Linked DNA regions of Homo sapiens. The protein of the gene in region 1 interacts with the protein of each later gene in a pairwise test. Each region holds a gene or a part of one and is shown in the gene's direction. Other genes may lie near its edges. The genes, in order: RAB28 and ACSF3.

Region 1 (3,919 bases):
TATTCTTTTTTTTTCTGTCTTTTCAGTGTTTGTAAATGTAGCATGGTTAAAAAATGTTAGTAGAAATTTACCAAGTCAAAAATGTTAGTAGAAATTTTCCAAATCAAAAAATATAAAGATTCAGATAAAAATATTTCTGATATGGGAGCTAGTTGTTCACTTAATACCTGTAATTAAGAAGGGTATTTATACAGTGACTTGAGAAATTATTGAATGTGAAAGATAGCATGCAGTCTAGATAAGTGAAGAGAAAGTGACCCCCACTGATTCAGTTGATTCTCTGTTCAATTTTTATCTCAAGACATCGGGAGATGATATAGTAAGAACTTACTTTAATACTCTGTATGTTCCCAGTAACCTGTATTTTTGACAGTTTACACTCGATTCCAGTTGAAAATCCTAGCTTTATGTTTGCCTCAAAAGTGTGAAAGCAGGGCTTTCAAAATCTAGAAGTCACTTTTTCAGGAAAAGAAACTTTCTTAGAATTTTTCTGAATATTCCTTAACATGAAAATATTGAACTCTGAGATTCTTTAAAGTGAAAAATTATCTCAAATGACATTACGTGAATGTTACACATGCCTTCAGTTTCTCTTTGACCTTTAAGTATTTCAACCATCAGTCTATTAAATATTTTGAAATATCTGTAATAGTATAAGTAGTGATAGTTATTTTTTTCTAGAATTCTGAACCTCTTCAAAGATGATTTTGTGGTCTAAGTTAGATAAGATCAGTAGAATAATATAGTGTAGATGAGAAACAATGGTCTGTAAAAAGAAATACCTATCTTTTCAATTCTGATCTCTCAGTTTTGATAGTGTTACATGTGTCAAAAATATAACAAATGTGTTTGTTTCTAGATGTCTAGCAGAATACCCTTTATATGGTAGTGCTCAACAAATACTTGGCCAATTATCTTCGAAATTTATTACAAATGCTGGGTATTTAAACCCAAAAATATTTGGAGTTATGGTGTCCAAATTGCCATTTGTGTGAAAAATATGGTTCTGTGTAAAAGGAATTTTAGATGATCTTGCTAAAAGGAATTGAAGTTTGGCCAAATTTTCTTTTGCACTATTGTACTGCTTATGTCATAAGGAACTGTAATAAGCTATCTTGGAAATTTATCTTAGTTTTCATTATTTTAAGAGTTGACATGTAATTTTAACTTTTAAAATAAAAAACGGCTATTTTCTCTTAAAGTAGGGAGTCTGTCTTGAAGAGCATAAAAGCTTAGTGAAGTTGCCTTTCTCTTTTTTGGAGGAAGTTTATAAATAAAAATAGTGCATTTAAAATGTTTAAGAATTTGTTAAGTTATTGTTATTCAGTTGTTACTAGAATAATTATTCTTTTGCTTTGATAAGAAATGGTACTTTAAAAAGAAAACTCCAGAGTTTTTGACTAAAACTTTCAGTTTCTATTAAAAAACAAATGTATATCTGTTCTGGTTATGATAGCTTGTGACTTCTTGGCATTATGGTTCTTGGATGGAAAATATTCATTTTGTCTGCTTTATATTAATCTTAAAAATACGTTTATTTAAGAGGTACATATTGTCACAGTCTTTCTTTAGGGTCATTTTCATTTAGCATCTTTAAAAATAAAGAAAAATTACATACGGTGCTTTTCTTGTGGGAAAAAGAAAAATTCTGTAAGCAGATTTCTCCCTCCTTAATGAATGCTTCTTATTATTAGCTTAGTGCTCAGCTACCCTCAGAATATTTAACCTCAGAAGCTGATCTAAGTTAGATTAGATCTTTAATTATGTTTTAAAATAATTCAGATCTTTATTTATTTATTTTTTAGTTTTTTTTTCTGTTGATAACTCTCAAATTCTAATTTTCAGCAAGGAAAAGGATCTTGACAAGCAGGGGATTTAAAGAGATCTAACTCATTAGTTCGTTGTCCCTACCGATAGCTGCTGGCAAGTAAAATTTACCTGGTGGTGTTAAGTCTCTCCCCTCCTTGTAACTGATTAGAACTGCTTAAATTTGCTTGTTGGATTAATTGCAATATACATGTTAAGATTGCTTAAGATTTATAGTGGTCTTATGATTACATTTCTTTAATGAATTAATTTTGACATTCTGTGCATCAATTTTTTAGACCTCCTTAACTACGTGTTTTGCTCAAGAAACTTTTGGGAAACAGTACAAACAAACTATAGGACTGGATTTCTTTTTGAGAAGGATAACATTGCCAGGTAAGAGACTAAAAAGTCTTAACGTAGAAGATTATAAAAAAATCTTAACAATAAGTGGCATAAGAAAGAAATGTGTAAAATTTTGGGGCTGCTTCTACATGAAGATGTATATAAACAGTAAATTTATCTTAGGGATGTTAACTTTCATCACAATCTATCATGAAAGCATATTGTCCATGGGTATAAGAAAAAGTTTATATACTCTCCCACTCCTTCCCTGTTTTTGGCTACTATACATTTTTTGAGGATAAACAATGGTTGCTTATAAAATTGTGAAAAGCTTTTAAAAAATTAAGTGCTGTACATTTGTCAACAGATATTGTATTAACAAAATGTGAAAAGATTGGGAAGGATTATTTTTTAAAATATTATTTTGATTTGCCTCTGTTTTAGTTTTTTGTTTAAAGTTGGAACAGAAGTATAATGTAGCTATGGAACTTCTGTGCTCTAATATGTGAATGCTGTTTTATGCAAGGCAGCATGAAATTGCTGGCATTTAATAGACCACTAAAATTTAGGGTCCCTAGGCACTCATAAAAATACAGTTTGAGCATTCAAGATGTTTCACTTCACCATGCAAAGAAACTATTTAGATGCCAGTTGCAGCACATTTTGTGGGAAATACGGGGAAATAATAACAAAGAAAGAGTGGTTTATGTTTTAAGTTAGTTTCTGAACAATTGGGGCTTTAAAATGCTGTCCTTTCAATTTCAATGGTTAAATTATATGTTTAAAGTATTTTATTAAAAGCAGTTTATCTTGATTGACTTTATAAACCATCCATCTCTCTCCTCTGTGAGGAAGCACATTTGGAGAAAATGGTTGCAAGTGTAATGTCAGATTCATGTACTGAAATGTGAGTGATACAGTGGGAAGGGGTTTAATACATTCCAATTATTATTGAAATATGTTAACCTCTCAGACACCCCATCTATCAGACAACTCCCCATGAAAGTTTTAGAGTAGGTAATGAAAACTCTTGGTAATGGAGGTATTCTTCTTATCTCCTTAGTAATATACTCTGCTATATTTTGTGATAGTTTGTATTTGGCTACCAGTGAAAAATAGATTAGGAGATATCCCATGAGAAAAAAAAGAATTCCAATTTTTCCATTACTGGGTTATTGTTCAGCAAGAGGTTTAAGGAGAAACATATGCGTACTTTGTTTCATTTGTATTTTCTTTTATTGTATCCAAAACTGAAAATGTCATTTTAATTTTATTATTCTCACTCTTACGGATAATCTATGCTGCATTCAGAATACTTAACAGCAGTCACTAGCTGAATACATACACAGATCACATAATACAGATGCTGGAAGCTTATTTTTGCAGGAGTTTTTTTCACAGATGCCAGTTGTACACAGAGAATCTCAAATGTGGCATTTCATTATTAGCTATTTTGTTTTGATGCTTAATTTGAAAAGCCACCAACTTCTTGTCTCATTACTTTATTATTTCTCATTTTTTAGTTGAAAAGCTTAAATAAACAAGTACCTACTCAAATATTAAAAACAAAGACTGGTTTTCAGACATTTTATACAGGTGATATGATGATTTCTGACCTGTGGCCCAGCACTACCAATTTAAAAATTTTGATTACTTTGTAAAAAATATTTGATATTCTTGAAATCGAGATTTATAGTATAATATTTTAGACTTAGTAATTAGGTTAAAAAATGACATTAGGGCATGTATACTAATGAATGTATATTTT
Region 2 (3,919 bases), on another chromosome or scaffold:
ACAGGGGGTGGTTTTGGGGGTCTCTTCACTCTGCACAGCCTGGCTGCCTGCAGTTGTTCTGCTGGTTGTTTCAGCCCACGTCTCTCTGGCTAGAGGCTGTCCTCCAATGTCTGCTAATCCCTGACTGCTCCTGCTTCCCACCTGCCACTATGATGCTGACCAGAGCCGAGGCACAGATGGGACCCCTGCTCATAGGATGACTGGGCCATTTCTCGGAGACTGCACCCTCCCCCCACTGCCACCCTCACAGAGCCATGGCCAAGGACCACGGGAGCTGTCACCCTGTCCCAAGTCCTGTCTCTAGGTGGGTGACGCAGCCTGAGCTCTTCAACTTCCCAGGGATAGAAATTTGCGCACACACGTCCTGGGGCTGAATCCTGATGTTAGACGCCCTCCTTACTCTTCCTACTGCCCTCGTCGGAAACACCATTCAGCCTGCTGAGTCCTGGAAGCAGACAGAATTCTGACACCAGATCAAGCCTGTCCCAGTGGCAGAGGGTTGGACTTGCTTTTTCTGCATGATACCTAGCAGGGTGGCAACCAGAGGCACTAGAAGTTTGGGTTTGTTCTCCCACGCTCTGTGTTACAAACTTCCCCCAGATCCAGCTCCTTCCTCCCAGGAAAACCATCCTCGGGCTCCTGAAGTGCCCTTTCCTGAGCTTTCCAAGGACACAACTGCTGCCCCAGCAATCATCACAAGAGAGGAAGATGGGCATGGAAAATAATACACTTACAAAAAAACTGTGCAAGGTTCTGCAGATAATTTTTTTTTTTTTTTGAGACAGTCTCACTCTGCTGCCCAGGCTGGAGTGCAGTGGCGCAATCTCAGCTCACTGCAGTCGCCACCTCCCAGGCTCAAGAGATTCTCCTGCCTCAGCCTCCCGAGTAACTGGGATTACAGGCACCTGCCACCACTCCCGGCTAATTTTTGTATTTTTAGGAGAGACAGGGTTTCACCATGTTGGTCAGGCTGGTCTTGAACTCCTGACCTCGTGATCTGCCTACCTCGGCCTCCCAAAGTGCTGGGATTACAGGCGTGAGCCATCACACCAGGACGGTTCTGCAGATAATTTGTACTACTGTTTGCCAGTACATGTCTTTGTGTTATTAGTATTCATTTTAGGGGAAAAACCCTCAAATTTCAGCCAACTGGACTTTGTGTTTGGCTTTAAATGTTTTCCGCCACTGTCCATCCAACAGTCTCGCTTCATATTCGTATCCTGGTTCCCAAGTCCCTTCGAGGAGAGATTCTCAAATGCGGTCCGTTTAAAATCACCCAAGAAATACAAAAATTAGACAGGCATGATGGCGGGCGCCTGTAGTCCCAGCTAATTGGGAGGTTGAGGCAGGAGAATCACTTGAACCCGGGAGGCGGAGGTTGCGGTGAGCCGAGATCACACCACTGCACTCTAGTCTGGGCGACAGAGCGAGACTCCATCTCAAAATAATAATAATAATAAGAAAAAGTAACAACAATAATAATAATAATAAAATCACCCAGGAGCTCAGCGTGCAGACCCCCAGCCGCAAAGCCCAGAGAGCCCCTTTTGGGAGGACGGGGCGAGGCCCAGCAATCCGCGTTGGGAGTGGTCCCGCGCGCCGTTCTGATCTGGGCAGCCCTGGGCTAGCGGAGACCACGGCGCCTTGCCTCGGCCACGGCTCACGAGACGCCCGCGGCCCCGACCCCGCCACGACGGGACGGGCGGGACAGGGGAACACGCGCGCCCGGAACCCGCCGCCACGGCGCCGCGCCGGGGGGACGCGCTTGGGCGACGGACGCGCCGCGCCGGGGAAGCTGTTGGGCGCCGGAACTGGTCCGGCCCGACTCACGACCCCGCGGGACCCGGCCGGAACCCGGCCCGACCCCGGCGCGCGCGCGGCGGAGGACGAGGAAGAGTTGTGGCGAGGCAGATCCTGCCCCGTGGCCGCGGCCGTCTCGTAGGTGCGGGCGGCGGGGCCCACGGGACCGCGGCGGGGTCGGCCGGGCGCAGAGCTCTCGGGGGCGCGGGCTCCGGCGCCCGCCCCTGGGTCGCAGCTGGGCTTGAGCCGTGGCCCGTGGCGCGGTCGCTTCCCCGCGAGCCGCCTGGGGCCGGGCGTCGGCCTTCCCGGGACGCCGAGCCTCTCGTGTCCGGTGGGGAGCGGGGCCCCCGCGCGGGGTGCGGGGAGAGAAGCTGTGCGGACGCCGGGCCCGGTGATACCGTCGAGCCGGCGGGGTCCGTGTTCAGGCATCCTCAGAACGAATCGTCTTTGGTTGTGTTTGGAATAAATTCACTTCCATTTCTCATTGGGCTTCAGAAGTCACCCTTGAAGTACTCCCCGTTTTAGTTGTTTGCTGCGTGCACCTTGCTGGGCGCGTGGGGCACAGGTTCACAGCCGGCCTAGCCCCTGAGGGCATGTAGATCTATGAGCAAGCAATGGAGACGTGCGGCCGGCCGTGAAGTATTTGGAAGGTACTGCAGGCAGCCCATTCCCTGGAGAGAGGGAAGGTTTAAAGGGGTGAGGCCCGGTGCAGTCAGGAGTTGATGTTGCTGTCCTGAGTCTAAATTCCACCAGGCAGGCCAGGTGCAGTGGCTCATGCCTGTAATCCCAGCGCTTTGGGCAGCAGAGGCAGGAGGATCACTTGTGGCCAGGAGTTCAAAGCCAGCCTGGGCAACATGGTGAGACCCCTATCTCTACAAAAAAATGTAAAAATTAGCTGGGTGTGGTGGCGTACACCTGCACTTCCAGCTACTGGTTAGGCTGAGGCACGAGGATTTCTTGAGCCCAGGAATCGGAGGCTGCAGTGAGCCATGACAGCACCATTGCACTCCAGCCTAGGTGGCAGAGCAAGACACTGTCTCAATAAATAATAAAACTGAAAAAGAAGAGGTGATATTTGAACTGGGCTTGGAAGAATGATTAGGAATTTGCTAGAAAGGGAACACGTTTAGAGATAGGAACACGAATTGTGTCTGGGGCATAGTTGTTGCTTTCCCATCCTGGGAGGACAGACATTCGTGTTAGGGCCCAAGGCTGAGACCTTGTTGAGGAGGGGGTTCACATGGTGGACCCAGGAGCACGGGTGTTACTACCGGTGGACCCTGGGGACCCTGCGAGCTTTGTAGCGTGAAGCCTGGCTCAGGCTGGTGTCCTCTCCGCAGGTGTTGGAGGACATAAGATGAGGCTTCCCTTGCTCTTGCTCCTTTGGCTCTGAACCATCTCCTCAAGGCAGACAGAAATGGCGGATTAAACTGTGGGCTTGGGATAGTTGTAAGTGTCACCTTTCCAGATGGCATTTTTAAAATAGTATTTTTCTTCCTAAAATGGATATGGGTTTCAAGTGTATTTTTCCTTTTTGGTTTTTTTTATTTGAATGTACTGCTCATGAATGCAATGTGAATGTCTGTTACTTAAAAATGTAATTTTGAAAATAACCCTCCAAACCACAGGTGTGATGCTGAAACGCATCCTGCCCCGCAGGCCGAGCACAGCCCTCCTCTGCCCCACGCTCTCATCGGGGCAGCCGACAGGAGGAAGTGCCGGCATCCACTTCAAACACAAGGTCTGGGGGGGCGGGGGTGTCAGGTGTGGTGGTGAACAGGTCAGGTGTCGTTTTATTCATGTTGAAAGCAGCCCTTCATTTGAATGCGAGTGTCATTCTCATCTAGTAATTTTTGTTGCGAGGCTCCATGGGGAGCACCCTGCTGAGCACGGCGCGGCCGTTTGTCTTCTGCCTGGCCTGTGCCGGGCCATTCGTACATTCTCACGTGAAGCCTGTGAGGCAGGTCTTGTTACTGTGCCATCTTAGCGGTGGGAAGTGAAGGGCTAGGCCAGTGAGGAAATGAGGACAAAGGCAGCAGCCGTTCAAGTCGAAGCCTGTGGTGACTAACTCTGCCATTAACCAGCACTCCAGTTAGGAGGGAAAAGATGCATCCCGCTG

Evidence for each region.
Region 2: the proteins of RAB28 (region 1) and ACSF3 interact in binary tests that used the Homo sapiens proteins (3 or more experiments, as listed by UniProt).

What each region holds. Positions count from the first base shown.
Region 1 is NC_000004.12:13,477,713-13,481,631, reverse strand, and holds part of RAB28 (ras-related protein Rab-28), read left to right. Parts: intron 1-2,105; coding exon 2,106-2,202; intron 2,203-3,919.
Region 2 is NC_000016.10:89,092,055-89,095,973, forward strand, and holds the start of ACSF3 (malonate--CoA ligase ACSF3, mitochondrial isoform 1 precursor), read left to right. Parts: upstream 1-1,797; 5' UTR 1,798-1,942; intron 1,943-3,919. UniProt on the Homo sapiens protein: Catalyzes the initial reaction in intramitochondrial fatty acid synthesis, by activating malonate and methylmalonate, but not acetate, into their respective CoA thioester. May have some preference toward very-long-chain substrates.